2 separate regions of the Homo sapiens genome follow, and region 2 is linked to region 1. Evidence: fine-mapped expression QTL. Tissue or cell type: ileum. Region 1 holds a variant in brackets; the other region holds the start of a gene. All regions are shown on one strand. Distances are between the middles of the regions.

The links. PIP is the estimated chance that this variant, and not a neighbour inherited with it, causes the effect.
Region 2: SUMF1 starts here. The variant in region 1 is fine-mapped to the expression of SUMF1 in ileum (GTEx, PIP 0.96).

The regions. Positions count from the first base shown.
Region 1 is chr3:4,390,842-4,398,948 of GRCh38, reverse strand. The region is part of intron 7 of SUMF1 (sulfatase modifying factor 1); the gene reads left to right. Among named protein-coding and RNA genes, the nearest start is that of SUMF1, 72 kb to the left of the region's middle. RefSeq lists an enhancer at 4,570-4,864. The variant A/G (reference allele first, on the strand shown) is at 3,275.
Region 2 is chr3:4,462,629-4,470,735 of GRCh38, reverse strand. SUMF1 (sulfatase modifying factor 1) reads left to right here and starts at 3,467. Exons shown (of 9, transcript NM_182760.4): 1 at 3,467-3,760. The coding sequence starts at 3,491. LOC124909340 (a long non-coding RNA gene) reads right to left here and starts at 3,912. Exons shown (of 2, transcript XR_007095789.1): 1 at 3,228-3,912; 2 at 1,337-2,072. RefSeq lists an enhancer at 3,241-3,420 and a silencer at 3,591-3,770.

The sequences.
Region 1 (8,107 bases):
TTCTGATCCCCAGACTTGTTAATGTTTACTGGATTCCAGATGTTATTTCAAATACAAAACATGAAAAGCTACTTATTTCCTTGTAGTAGTATTTTGTCACAAGCCACATATGTTAAATCAGGCATCTCAAGACTTGTTATAAATATAAAGATAATTTAAGAGATGGGAATCGCTATGTCATACAGTGGCTTCTTCCAAAAGCAAGTGGGAGGCAGTGAATTTTTCCTATGGTTTTTGATCTCTTGAGATTTTAAATCAGTTTCTTGTCCTTCTTACCTTCCTAACCTCTTATTTCCATTAAATTATTTTTAAAAATTATTGATTTGGCAAGCTAGTTTTTGTATCTGACGTCTGACTTGTTAATGAGCTGTAAAGTAATATAGTGCCATTTCCCATTCCTATAGCTTACTTTTAGTGACTTCCCCATGTCATAGTATGACTCATTTGTTCTTTCTCTAAGGATCTGGAAATAAAACCAGGTTATTAAGAAGAGAAAATATATAGTTAAGTTATCTTTTTTTGTTACCAAATTATGCTGTGATTTTTTTCATGTGGATGTGTGGATGCCTTTTTAATATAGGAATATGCATATCCACACGTAGAAGTTTTATGTAAGGGTATACTTCTGTCCATTCAGCAAAATTTACTGGCAAGCTACTGAATGCCAGATTTGTATGCTGGGTTCTGGGAATCTAACAGACACAATCCTCTTTTCTTAAGGAGCTTGCAGATGTTAAAAGAGCAAGCAAACCCACCTCGGTGGGTTTACATACATATACATTTATTGCTATAAAAGTATAAAATTAAGGAGGAAGTATAGCATGATGGTTAAAAGCATGCAGTTTTGGAGTGGGACCTGGATTTAAGTCATAGCTCAGCCACCTACTAGCTGAATAACCTGGAGCAAGTTAGTTAACCTTTCACCCAGCTTCCTCATCTGTAAGTGAGGAAATAGTAATACCCTTTATGGGATTATTGGAGGTTTCAAGGAGATGCTACAGAGAAAATGTCTAGGGTAGAGGCTGTCATGTAGTAAACATTTGATATATGTTAATTATGAGTATTATGTTTTACGTGTAATGAAAATTCAAATGAAATAAGCTAGCAAGCTATGAAATTATACCTTACTCTGAAATCTAATCCATGGAAGACATTTTTTTGGACCTTTTTAGGGATGTGGAAAGGAGATAGGCCATCTGGTAGCATGCAATTATAAATAACACTTCTTTCCATGGACAGTCTCCACTTTATACTCAGTAAAGGAAGTAAACATGGCATCTAATCAAGCAGCAGAACATACAGAATTGGGCACTTAGCACTTATCCACTTTCAAAACGTCCAAATAAAATCATGGAAGTCTTCAAGTGGTTCTCTGAAAATAATGGTTAAGTGAAAATGCCATTTGGTATAAGCTAATTGCTTTATTCTCTCATAACTTGCTAATGAATTGTCACTGAAGAACACAGAAGATTGTGAGAATAAAAGAATGTGATAGATCCCTAGTGAGACTAAACCGTGTCTACTTTTCTCACTTCAAGTAATACTTAGAACCATATGCGGCCCTGCACTCAGGACTGACAGTTTTATACAGTTATTCTAAGCAATATAAGTGATTGATTCTGGAGCAAATCTTTCAGTGAATGTAGTCTGTACCCTGTGTTGGTGGTGGTTTGGTTTTAGTTGACCTAGAAGTTGCCTTTGCATTTAGGATGATGCTGCTGTATAACATGCATTGCTTAGGATAAAACAAACGGATTTCTCTATAATTTAGATCTAATCCATCTGAAATTGGATAGAGCAGGCATGTTCCTTTGTGTTGCATATTAGTGTGTTACACTTTCTGAAGTTAAAGAACCACCTGCATTATTAGGAGGCTAATTCCATCTAGCAGTCTACTGCATTCCATCTGGCAGTCTACCACTACCAGTAGATGATGAGAAAGTTTCTTCTTTGTTGCAGAAATCTAATGTGATATGTGTTTTCTCTTAATAGTTGCTTCTTCTGTGTTTAGGTTGACTGGTTTTCAGCACATAGATGCTTTATAGCCTTGTGTTTCACAGCTATAATAATTCATGCTTCTTAAACAGAGCATATGTATCTACTGTTATATAGGTCAGAGAATTAATCATTCTCCTGGGGCCTCACTCTTTTTTCTACTCTCTCTCCTTCCTGTCTCTCAGTGGGGAGAGAGGCTGTAAAACTTGAGGCCCTCGAATGAGGCACCTCAAAGAAGATTGTAGTTGCTTATCTCACACCTCAGCAAGAAACCATGGGAAGTTCCTTGAAGGAAGTGAAACAATTTGGGATGGAGAAGCTCCAAGATAAAAGGATTTGGACATGTGTCCACCAGCTCACATCAAATGGTTGGTGGGGAAGGACCCTATAAGGTCTCTAGAGGAGCACAAGTGAGGGAACTCAGGCCAGAAGGGAAAGGATAGAGCCCAGACTAGATACTGGTTCTCCCAACTACCTGGCCTGTGCGGTAGGTCCCGTGGTGATGCCTCCTGCCTGGGCTCATCCTGTGGAGTCTCTGCAGGTTATTTTGCAGACACTTTCTATTTGCAATCTCTTGTAAGACTTTTTATTGTGTGCTTTTATGGCCTTGTGGAACTCGTGAACTATAGAGAGGTTTGTGTGTCTGAAACTAGAATAGTCGAATGATTTATTCGAAAAATGTTACAGTCTATGAGTTAGTTCAGAAGGGGCACATGGCAGAATGGCCGACTATGATGCTGAAGCCAGACATCCTGGCCTTCAGCCCAGCTCCTCTGCTTTCTAGCTGCGTGACCTTGGGCACACTATTCAACTTTTCTGTTCCTTAGTTCTTTAGCTGTAAAATAAGGCCAATGAGTGGGTGTCCAAACATTCCTGGTTTATATCTGTGCCTAGCACAAGTGTTAATAGTTCCACCTTTCAATCTCTAAAGTATCCTTATTTGGATGGTCAATTATATGTCTGCCATACCAATAAGAGAATCTGTATCAAAAATTTGTTTGGAAGACTAAAAATATAGAAAACAATATCCAACTGTAATGTGCTTGGTAAATATTAGCTGCTATTGTTTATTTATGTGCTATTTATTTTACAAGTAGACTGGTATTTTAAATACCTGATTTCATGTATTACTCCAGGAGCAAGAACGGTTACCATAGACTTTGGGGTCTGAAAGTGACTTATATTATTGGAAAATCAGGAGCCACCGTGGTATAAGCAAGTGTAATACAATTTCAAAAATTCTCTTCGTTTCTAATCTGGTGTGGGTGAAACAAGTAGC[A/G]TGGAGGAAATGACTGTTTTCATTCATTTCACTAAAATGGTAATCACCACAATGGCATGCTGGTTTTACAGAGAAAATACAGTGGAGGTTGTTAATTTGATTCGTGTGTTTTACTGCGCTCTTCTTTCCAATTTGATCTCTAGTTTTCTTTCTTTGACCTTTCTTTGGGCGTCACCTTTTCCTCTCATGCAGGAGAGGCTAATGCTAATTGCAGTCCCTTCTTCATTGGTCCTTGTCCCCAGAGATAAATAAAATTAAACATAATTCAAAAAGCTTTATTTGAAGTAATGGTTTCATCTGCTCACTCTTAAAATATTTTTTCACGTTGGACATTAGGTAAAAAAAAATACAAATTATTGGTATTTTGACTGTATTTTTCACAAATATGTACTTTGGGTAGAGATGCTGCTGAACCTAGAAGATACTCTATCTGGTTAGGCACGGGGGTGAGATAAGCCTGCAGGTGCCACAGTGTGATGGACTTTGACTCCTGGTTCTCTCGCTTGCTACCTGTGTGATCTTGGGGATGCCATTTATTTCATCTCTCTGAGCTTCAGTATTTTCATCCTTAAAATGAAAAGAATGATACTTCCTGCTTTACAGGGTGATTATGAGGATGAAATACGATGATAAGGATTAGTATACTCTCAACAAATGGATGGTATGGTAATTAACAGAGACGTCAGTCATTTTAAATTCTAGAATATTTGAAAACAAAGAGTTCCTTTCTCGAAAGATGGTTGAGGTGATTGAAAGAGGCTTCTTTTAGGAGGAAGATGTGCAGAGGCTGTGTCTCTGATGATAAAAATACTTTGATGATGTGGATTTCATACAGGAGAAGCTAGTGCTCTTCATCACAGAGCTAAATACAGACCTGCCCAGGACCCAGAGAAACTAAAGGAGGATATAGGGTCAGTGAGAAACAGCTGCAGCCTTGCCTGGATCCCTTGTATCAGTCTTCTGAGAATAAAAACACTATGGCTATTGCTACTCTTCTGTCTTCTAGGTTGCTTAGTAAATGTCTTCTGTAGCACATCCTAACGAGAAACATAAAGGGAAGAGAATTCTGGGAAATGAGGTTCAGTCTAGCCAAGGTGACACATTACAAAGCTGGGACATTAACAGTTATCCAATCTAGTTTAATCTAACACCTTTGAATTACTTTAAAACCAACCCCAAATACTATGTACTTTTTTCCCTAGAAAACTTCAGTATGTGGCTGGGTGCTGTGGCTCATGCCTATAATCCCAACACTTTGGGAGAGCGAGATGGGCAGATCACTTGAGCCCAGGACTTTGAGACCAGCCTGGGCAACATAGTGAAACACCGTCTTTACCCAAAAATTTAAAATGGTGCATGTGTCTGTGGTCCCAGCTACTCAGGAAGCTGAGGTGGTAGGATTGCTTGAGTCCAGGAAATTGAGGCTGCAGTGAGTCATGATCACGCCACTGCACTCTACCCTGGGTAACAGAGTAAGACCCTGTCTCAAAACACACAAAAAAAGCACTTCAGTATGTGACTGTAAAAGCTAAACACTCTTTTAAAAAAATAATAATAAAAACAAAACTATAATGGTATTATCAAATCTCAAAAAAAACCTAAAAATAATTCCTTAATATTATCAAATACTCAGTCAGCATTTACATGTCCTTAATTATCTCATGAACATTTTTCTGTAATTGGCTTGTTGAGAATCAGGATCCTAAGAAATTCCATTCTTGTTGTGATCCTAATTACATTTGGTTGAGTTCTTATTTTGGTAATTGCAATGTAAGAGGTCAAGTGATTCACTAATACAGAAAACAAGTACAAAACTGAACAAAATTGTAAAGAAAAAACACACACCCAACCACTGGAAACTGAAAATCCACCAAAGGGAGGTGATAAATTGAGAAGTGTTGATTCTTGAGAAACTTCTATAGCTTTGGCCAAGAATGGGTGAGAATATGTGGCGTTCTTGCTTGGAACTGATTCCATATCCTCTTTCTGCCACACTCTATTATTAAAAATAATAATAATAATAAATAAATAAATAAATAAAAGGCCAGTCATGGTGGCTCACTTCTGTAATACCAGTGCTTTGGGAGACTGAGGTGGGATGATCTCTTGAGGCCAGGATTTCAAGACCAGCCTGGTCAATATAGTGAGATGTTGTCTCTATAAAAAAATAAAATATTAGGCGAGTGTGGTGGCATATGCCTGTAGTCCCAGCTATTCAGGAGGCTGAGATGGGAGGATCACTTGACCCCAGGAGGTCGAGGCTATGGTGAGCTATGATTGCACCACTGCATTGTGGCCTGGGTGACACAGGGAGACCCTGTCTCTAAAACTAAAATAAAAATGTAACTGTCAGTTCAGGACTGGTGGCGAAAACCAAAGCCTTACAGCCAAAGATTGACTTGATTCAGGGTGGAGGATGGGGGCACTGAAAGCCTGTGGCTTTGTCAGCTAAAAAAGCAGACTCACGTTAGAATATTTTGGGAAATCCTGCAGCATGACTAGCCCACGGTAGCAGTTGTGATGGGTGGTAGACCAGCCAGAAATTTAACAGGGAGATCGCGCAAGTAACAGAGACATTAAAGGTGTGAAATAAGCTTTTCTAGGCTTTCTGGGAAACTAAACATAAGCAGGGAAGACCCAAGAGAGCCCAGCAAAAAGTGAAAGCCAGGGAGACTTGAGATGACTGCCACTTTGAATGCCATTTCTCAATCCATACACCTTGGTTCATGAAAGGTGAAAGCCCAGTGGGTTCAAAGTATCTGAGATAGCCTCTGTCTAAATTATTGGTCAGCTGTTCAAGTATGCAACACAAATATGACCTCAATGGAATTGAAAAAAAAAATCTGAACAGAGACATCAGTGGGTACAGACCATGGGGAATGAGATTCTACAGTTTATATTCAGGTAAGTTACCAAAACAAAACAAAACAAAACAGAACAAAAACCTTCAGGAAAATAGGGTAATCAAGAGTTGCTGTTACATATACATGTGCTCTCTCTCTCGCTCTCTTTCTCTCTTTATATATATAGGTAGATATATATATATATATATATATATACACACACACACACACACACACATATATATCTGAACATATAAACATTTAAGATTATTTAAGATTATATATGTAATCTTAAATTATGCATATTATGTATAATCTTAAATGTCTAGTTTTCAGCTAAAATGTAATAAACATGCAGACTAACAAGAAAGTGTGACCCATACTAAAGAAGATGAGTATTTAAGTTAAAACTAACTCCCAAGTAGGCCCAGATGCTAGATTTAACAAAGACTTAAAAATAGCTATTATGATTATATTTAAAGAACTAAAGTATATTTGAATAGTTGCTATAAAATACGCCAACTGTGAGTCAACAAATAGAGAATCAAATAGAAATTTTAAAAAAAGAACCAAGTAGAATTTCTAGAATTGAAAAGTATACTACTAACTGAAATGAAAAATTCCCTAGTTGAACACAAGAGCAGATAAGAAATGGTAGAAGAAAGATTCAGTGATCCTGAAGGTAGATCAAGAGAAAGTATCCAGGACAGGTGCAGTGGCTCACACCTATAATCCTAGCACTTTGGGAGGCTGAGGCGAGTGGATCGCTTGAGCCTGGGAGTTTGAGACCAACCCTGGTAACATGGAGAAACCATGTCTCTACAAGAAATAAAAAATTAGCCAGGTATGGTGGTGCACATCTGTAGTCCTAACTACTTGGGACGCTGAGGTGGCAGGATCACCTGAACCTAGGGAGGTTGAGGCTGTGGTGAACCAAGATTGCACCAATGCACTCCAGCCTGTGTGACAGAGCAAGACTCTATCTCAAAAAAAAAAAAAAGAAAAGAAAAGAAAAGAAAAAGGAATTATCCAAACCAATGAGCAGAGAGGGCTGGGCATGGTGGCCCATGCCTGTAATCCCAATACTTTTGGAGGCTGTGGCAGGTAGATCACTGGAGCCCAGGAGTTCGAGACCAGCCTGGGCAACATGGCAAAACCCTATATCCACAAAAATTACAAAAATTAGTCAGGTATCATGGTATGCACCTGTAATCCCAGCTACTCAGGAAGCTTAGGTGGAAAGATCTCCTGGGCCCACGAAGTCAAGGCTGCAGTGAGCCAGATCATGGCAATACACTCCAGCCTGGGTGACAGAGTGAGACCCTGTCTCAAAATAAATACATAAAAATTTAAAAAGCAGAAAAAATTTCAGAGAAAAATCAAGACAGCCCTGTGCAACAACATCATGTGTTCCAACATAATTTTAACACATGTGTAAAGGGAATCTCAAATGGAGAGGAGCAAAAGGGACAAAAATTTGAAAGAAAAATCTGAAAATTTCCCAAATTTGATGAAGATTATCTATAAATCCAAGAAGCTCAGTGAACCTCAATTAGGATAAACTGCAAAAACAAAAACAAAAACAAAAACAAAAAACCACACCTGGACAAATCATATTGACACTGTTGAAAGACAAAATCTTGAAAATAACAAGAGGAAAACAGTTCATCACATACAGGGCAACAATAATGTGATTAATAGCTGATTTCTGATCAGAAACAGTGGAGACCAGAGGATGATGGTGTGACATAATCAAAGAGTAGAAAGGAAAACAAACAAACCTGTCAACTAAGAATTCTATATCCAGGAGAACAATCCTTCAAAAATGAAGGTGAAGGAGGTTTGACTCCTGGTTCTAGAAAGATGGAGAGATGGAGTAGATGTACATTTTTCTATTCCTCTTACTAAATACAACTAAAACTCTGGACACTGCACATAAAAGAATTATAAGCAGACCATGGAAAGTTAAAGCAGAGTGGCTGAAGACCTC
Region 2 (8,107 bases), 72 kb before region 1:
AGGGGTAGGCCATGATCACAGAATCCAGTGGTTTTATCCCTTACAATACGAACCCAAAGCAGCTGGCCTCATAAAGGGTGAAAATGGCTTACTGAAAGCACAGCTGAAACGCCAGCTTGGATGCAATTTCCTGCAAAGATGGGGCCATCTATAAGGATGCAGTATACGCCCTCAATTAGAGATGTCAGACTTGTTCCCACGTAGGAAGAATATATAGGTTCCACCAAGAGGTGGAAGTAGAAGTAGCCCCACTTACTATTACTCCTACTGACTTACTGGGATTTTGTTCTCCCATCCCTGCAACTCTGAGCTCTGCAGAGCTGCAGGTCCTGATCCACAAAGGGATGCTGTCTTTCTGTGGACACAACCAGGGTCCCATTGAACTACAAGCCATGGCTACCATCAGGGCACTTTGCATTCCCTGTGTTCAGGAACCAGAAAGCAAGAGAAGCCTCTAACCTGGAGGGAAAATTGATGCTGCTCAGCAGGAAGAGTGTCAGATGTCTTCTCAAAACTGCAGTGGCACCAACTTTCACAGTAAAAGCTTACCAGAACATCCATGACTTGGCCCAATGTTACCTTTCTGTTCTCCTTTCATCCATGACTTGGCCCAATGTTACCTTTCTCATCTCCTTTCCTTTCTTCTCTCCCCCTTGCTCACTCCACTGTAGCCATGCTGAACTCTTTGATGTTCAGTGAGCAGACAAGCTGCTTTCAGGACTGGGGTCTTTCATCCTCCCAGCTTCATGAGATAGAAGGAGCAAGAAAGGCTACAAAATGCAGAAGGAGCTCACACGTGAGACGGAGGGTGAGAGATATTTTATATAATTACACTAATTCGTACGAGCTGATGGCTGAGTTGGACTTTTTACCTCTTAATTTTTAGAACAAGCCTCCTCACTGACAGGAGCAAAATATTAGAGTGGAAAATATTGATGAGAAATCTCTCATCGATCTCATACTCATTGATTATTGACTAAAAAGTTAGCCTGAGACAAAAGAATGATCGTCCTGGAGAACCAACAAAGTTCCATCTTTCATAATGATTAGTAATAGCAAAGTTATTTTTGAGATATGTTAAATGTCAGGTACCAGGCTACACCTTTTATATACTTTGTGTTATTTAATCCCCATAAAATCTATAAGAAAAAGGAATTATTATTCCCATTTCACACACGAAGAAATAGAGGCTCAGAAAGCTGAAATAATTTGCCTAGGTCATACTTCATGTAAAGTGGCCAGCTTTAACCACAGCTCTTTGTGAGTCTAAGACCTATATTATTTTCTCCACAATTTGATTCCCCTTAAGAGAAAGAGATAATCGTTACTTCATTTGTTCATTCACTTATCCATAATTTAATAAATGTTCACTGAGTGATCATGTGCAGGCTTGGCCTGATTTTGCTGATACAGTGGCAAACGAATAGGCTCCTGCCTTACCTTCATGGAGGTTATAGCCTAATGGTATAGCTGGACCAGGAATCAAAGAAGTTCAGGTCTCTGAAGCGCAGCTGACACAGCATGTGCTGAGACTGATATTTGAAGGAGGCGAACAAAGATTACCGTTGACCTAGACCTTGACTATATATTATGCACAGTAAATACATACAACCTTGGTTAAGGCATTGACCTTTTAGCTTCATCAATTTTGAAATGAGTATAGTAATAATACATTTCTTGCCAAGTGGTTGTAATCTCAAATGAGAAAATGTGTGAAAGGCCTTGGCAAACTGTAAAATAGTCAACAAGGAGAAAAGGCCTTTTTTTTTTTTTTGAGAGATGGTCTCACTTTGTCACCCAGGCTGGAGTGCAGTGGCACAATCATGGCTCACTGCAGCCTCTGCCTACCAGGCTCAAGTGATCCTCCTGCCTCAGCCTCCGAAGTAGCCAGGACCACCGGTGTGCGTCACCATGGCCAGTTAATTTTCTTAATTTTTTGTAGAGACAAGGTCTTGCTGTGTTGCCCAGGCTGGTCTCAAGCTCCTGGCCTCTAGCGATTCTCCTGCCTCGGCCTCCTAAAGTGCTGGGATTACAGGCTTGAGACACGGTGCCTGGCTGGTCTTTTCTTTATGCTAAAAAAATTCAAACAGATGCTACATTAGAATAGTGCAATAAACACCCAGATGCCCATCAACCAGCTATGACAGTTATCAACTCATGGCCAATCATGCTTCATCTTTAGCCAGACCCTGATTACCCATTTTTTGGGAAGCAAATCTTTGACTGCCTATATTTTTATCCATATATATATATGTGTGTGTGTGTGTGTGTGTGTGTGTATACCTCAGTGAGTGTGTGTGTACCTCAGTGAGGGGATTCTTTTAAAAAATATAGCCACAAATACCATTATTACTCCTAAAAGCCTAAAAACAAAATTTACAGCAATTCCTTAATTTTATCAAATATTATAATTTGACTTAGTGGTTAAATTTCCCTGATTATCTCAAAAATTTTGAACTCAGTAGGTTTGAATTAGTATTTAGATAAGGTTCACATATTGCAGCTGGCTGCTATGTTTTTTTTTTTTTTTTTTTTTTCAGATGGAGTCTTGCTCTGTCCCCAGGCTGGAGTGCGGTGGCGCCATCTCGGCTCACTGCAAGCTCCACCTCCCGGATTCATGCCATTCTCCTGCCTCAGCCTCCCGAGTAGCTGGGACTACAGGCGCGTGCCACCACGCCGGGCTAATTTTTTGTATTTTTTAGTAGAGATGGGGTTTCACCGTGTTAGCCAGGATGGTCTCGATCTCCTGACCTCGTGATCCACCCGCCTCGGCCTCCCAAAGTGCTGGGATTACAGGCTTGAGCCACCGCGCCCGGCCTGCTATGTTGTTTTTTAATCTGTAAGTTTCTCCTTCATCTTCTTTTTGTTTTGGTTTTGCATTTTGTTCGATTACGGAACTGTAGAACAGTGGTTCTTAAACTTAAGTGTGGATTAGAATCATCTGGAGAGCTTGTGAAACCCTGGATTGCTGTGTCCAGTCCCCACGGATTCTGATTCCGTATTGTATTTCTCTTTTTTTTTTGAGACGGAGTCTTGCTCTGTCGCCGAGGCTGGAGTGCAGTGGCGGGATCTGGGCTCACTGAAACCTCCGCCTCCCAGGTTCAAACGATTCTCCTGCCTTGGCCTCCCGACTAGCTGGGACTACAAGCGCGCCATTACTGGGTCTTTGTGAGGATTAAATGAGATTTTAAAAAGTGAAGTGCTTAGCATAGTACTCTGGCACTTACCAAATGCCCAGCAAATTTGACTGTTATTTTTCAACCAAGAAATCATAAAGGGGTGCACGGTCTGTGGAAGGCCTTGAGTTTTGTGGAGTTTTGTGTTTTGCTGCGTTTTGACGTTAGCACAGGCAAGCAGCAGCGCCAAAGAAGTACCTGAAGAAAGGTGAAGAGCAACTCTCCTGGTCACTTCGTAAGTCAGCTCAAAATTCTGCCCCTTTAAGGAGGGCTCAGCCACGTGACCAACCGGGTCACATGGCCCGCGGGACAACATGGCTGCGCCCGCACTAGGGCTGGTGTGTGGACGTTGCCCTGAGCTGGGTCTCGTCCTCTTGCTGCTGCTGCTCTCGCTGCTGTGTGGAGCGGCAGGGAGCCAGGAGGCCGGGACCGGTGCGGGCGCGGGGTCCCTTGCGGGTTCTTGCGGCTGCGGCACGCCCCAGCGGCCTGGCGCCCATGGCAGTTCGGCAGCCGCTCACCGATACTCGCGGGAGGCTAACGCTCCGGGCCCCGTACCCGGAGAGCGGCAACTCGCGCACTCAAAGGTGCTCCATCGATTCCTCCGAGGCGGGTGGGGGCTGCTCGGTTCCTGGACGGGGTTGGAGTAGGCAAAGCAAGGCACTAGTAGGAAGGGAAGTAAAGGTTATAACCACACCCCAAATCGAGCACCTGCTGTTCCCGTATGAGGAGTTCCTTCTCCGTGCCTCACCGGAAGACTCCATTTAATTGACCATTAGGGAGTTTGGTTTGAGGGTTATTGTTACTTCTTTACCCCCTATTTCTTTCTCCCTCCAACCTGTTCTCTTAATGAGGATCTCATAATTTTAAGGCAATCAAATTATGGTTTAAATCACCATTTCCTCTCTTATTAACGGAATAAATTAGGATCCTGGGTCTCAGTATCTTCACCAGGGTTGTTGTATACTTATCTGTAGTCTCCTCGAGTACACTCTGCTTGAGGACAAGGGCTTGAATTGTTTATCCTGCTATTCTTAGCACTTTAGCACTTAGGAAGGGCTAAGCAAACTGTAGTTGTTTTATTGCTATTATTTATCTGTCTTGCTTAGCGCCTGTATGTGTTAGGTGCCGGGATATATAAATAACTTACTGGCCGGGCGCGGTGGCTCACATGCCTGTAATCCCAGCACTTTGGGAGGCCGAAGCGCGCGGATCACGAGGTCAGGAGTTCGAGACCAGCCTGGCCAACATGGCGAAACCCCGTCTCTACTAAAAATACAAAAATTAGCCGGGCGTGGTGGCGGGCGCCTGTAATCCCAGCTACTCGGGAGGCTGAGGCAGGAGAATTGCTGGAACCCGGGAGGCGGAGGTTGCAGTGAGCCGAGATCTTGCCACTGCACTCCAGCCTGGGCGACAGGGCGAGACTCCGTCTCGAAAAAAAAAAAGAAAGAAAGAAATAACTGTTACTTCAATCTGTCTGCCCGGTATTTTGCATATTGATGTGTTGTCGAAACAACTTATGGGTCTAAAGGTCAGGTCTTCTGACTCCTAAACTAGTGCTCCTTCTTGTTTACTTAGCAGACACTATCCTTTTCCCATTCCATTTTTCTTTCCTTTGGGTTAATCCTGACCAATATTTAGGACTTAGGTGAGAGGTAACATCCACAGTAGGTTTTACCTGATCTCCTCTTTCTCTCCCCTTCAATATTTCCGTATCCTGCCTCAGTAGTTATGTGTTTATTCTGACATAACAATTATTAAAGATGTTTTTCTGCTGATGTCTCTCCCCAACTGGACTGTGAGGGTGATGGGGTCAGGACCATGATTTAGTCTCTCAGGTGTAGAGTGTAGGAGGTTGATACCTGGGCTTCTCATTGTTTTTCCATCCTGTATAATTTTTGGCCTTTACTTTTTTTCCTGTTACCCTTAGAGCATGTCCTGCAGTACTGTTTATCTTTTGTGTGTTGAAGACTCCTGATTACTGTTTTAGTGTGTATTGGCCATACTTGATATTAATTCCTCTCTAACTTGCCTGGTAATTGATAATCAATCTCTCTTTCTTTTTTCTTTTCTTTTTTTTTTTTTTAGACGGAGTCTCGCTCTGTCACCAGGCTGGAGTGCAGTGGCGCGATCTCCGCTCACTGCAATCTCCACCTCCTGGGTTCGAATGATTCTCCTTCCTGCCTCAGCCTCCCAAGTAGCTGGGATTACAGGCACACGCCACCATACCCAGCTAATTTTTGTATTTTTAATAGAGATGGGGTTTCACCATGTTGGCCCGGATGGTCTCAATCTCCTGACCTTGTGATCCGCTTGCCTTGGCCTCCCAGCGTGCTGGGATTACAAACGTGAGCCACCGCGCCAAGCCAGTCTGTCCCTCTTTCTAAGGAGAAATCCTTACATCTGTTTATCTATTTTTTAATAGGGCAGCCATCTCATTTGCATATATACATTGGTCTGTCTCAAAATTTTATCTAGATTCCTCTGGCAAGCATTGAACATTTTTCATTTTTAAACATTCTATTTTCCTCTGGGTTCCAGAATGGGATGTGGATGTTAGAATCTTTTGGATTACATTTACAAGATGTACATTTTTCATCCCTATAGAGTGGTTTTGTGTCTTGACTGGATGCTATATGGGCCATCTTTGGCCAGTTCTTATAGTCTGCTTTCTACAATGCTTAGGGGCATCTCAATTTATTAACAAATTAGTGGTTGATGAGAATATACCTTCAAGCCTTCAAGGGCTGAACTTAATGACTGAAACTGAAGCAGTCTTGTTATCAAGACAATGACGTCATAGGAGGCTGTTCTTAATCTCTCTATTTTCCTTGGTTTCAAATGTTTTAGTTCATGTGCAGATGACTTTGGTCTAATTCTGACACTTTACCATTTATTCTAAATTCAGGAACTCCAATATTTCAGGAGAAGTAAATGAGCATAGTGGTGTTTCTGCCTTTTTTCCCCTCTTTGTTTTCTGTTTATTTGGTTTAATTAAACAAATGTTTATTTGGCACATTACTATATAACACTTGTTATGTAAGATTCATCCTATGTGCTGGGCATACAGAAAAAGACCCATACACTACCCACATGGCATTTACACTCTGGTAGGTGTTTCTCTCTCTCTCACACACACACACACACACAAACACACACAGACACACACATAAGTATCATTTTTCTATAGTGAGAATACTATAGGAGGGATATGTCCAGAGTACCTGGAGAGGAAGAAAGAATTAATTCTTCATGGACAAGTCGAGTAGTGCCTCAAAAAAAAAAAGGCCACATTTGAGCTAGGCCTTGGAGGAAATATTTTTCGGAGCTGGGAATGGAATTCCAGATTCAAGGACATTCCAAGAAGGAGAATAGTATCAACACATGGCACATTGTGGAAATGCGTGGTGTGTGCTGGGAAACATAAGTGATTTAAGATCTGGGAGTGACATGTTCACACTTTTTAATGTAACACTTTTTAGATGAGTCTTTTTTTGTTTTTGTGTATTCATACAATGAGTGTGTGTGGCAAGGTGAGGGGCACAGAGAAATAACACTGGGCTTTGCCCTCAAGAAATTTTCAGTTTCACTAGAAAGTTATGGCGATTAGAATTGTCTGGGAAACAATATAGATGTTTAAAAATTTAATGTGTATTCCCTCTGGTTATAAAAATATGATTCTCATTGAGAAAATTATCCTAATAGTTTTCTGCGTGGGTTATGATTTTGTAACAAGGAAGCAAAATGTTTTAGTCTGCTTTTATCTTTTAGAAGAGTTATTTGAAAGGCATTTAGGATCATGGGATGCTAAGATTGTAGGTGGCATGTCTGTACATATGGATAAAGTCAGTCTTGATTTCCTGTCTGAGGAGGTTTCTGACTGGTAATGCTTCCCTGGGCAATGAGGCACAATCGAATGCCGTCTCTTCCATGAAACCTTTCCACCTCCTACAAAGAAGTAGTTTTTCTATCCTCTCAGTTCCCATAGCTTATTTTGTTGTTGTTTGATGACAACTTGTATATTTTCTTCAATATGGTGCTAGTGTTTTTTTGTTTTGTTTTGTTTTGTTTTTGAGACGGAGTCTCGCTCTGTCACCCAGGCTGGAGTGCAGTGGTGCAATCTCGGCTCATTGCAACCTCTGCCTACTGGGTTCAAATGATTCTCCTGCCTCAGCCTCCCAAGTAGCTGGGACTACAGGCACCTGCCACCACGCCTGGCCAATTTTTGTATTTTTAGTAGAGACGGGGTTTTACCACGTTGGCCAGGATTGTCTCGATCTTTTGACTTCGTGATCCACCTGCCTCTGCCTCCCAAAGTGCTGGGATTACAGGCGTGAGCCACCGCGCCCAGCCCTAATGTAGTGCTAGTTTTGTAGTTGTCTGATATTCTACATTGGAAGCATTTTTAGATGTTTTAATCTCTATATCCCCCACGTGCCTTATACATTTTAGGCATTCTGTAATAATTTCTTGAATGACCTGTGTTTCCTTTTTTGGTGGATACAGTATTGAGAAACTGCCTTGGGAATAGAGAAGGTCACATACTTTTTCAAGAAACATTTGTAAAGTATTCTTTTGCTGTATTCATCCTCCTAAGAATCCTGTGAGAGAGATCATCTCCCACTTTACAGATGAGGCAACTGAGGCTTAAAGGAATCATATAGCTCAGAACTGCAAGAAACTTTGAATGTCATTTCATCTATGATTAGTGTCTGTCTGTAGAGGCAGGAGGGTGACAGAATGGTATAGATAAATAAGCCCTGTATAGATAGATAAGGCAGGAGTTTGTGGACAGATCCAGAGAGCATGCTTCTCTTATTCACCCAGCTTTCTCATGAACCTTTAGCTTATTTTATTTTATTTTTTATTAGAGGGGACTCAGAACAAGAGCCTTTAGCTTTTAATGTTAAGGTTGAGGAGAGGAAAGAAGGAAA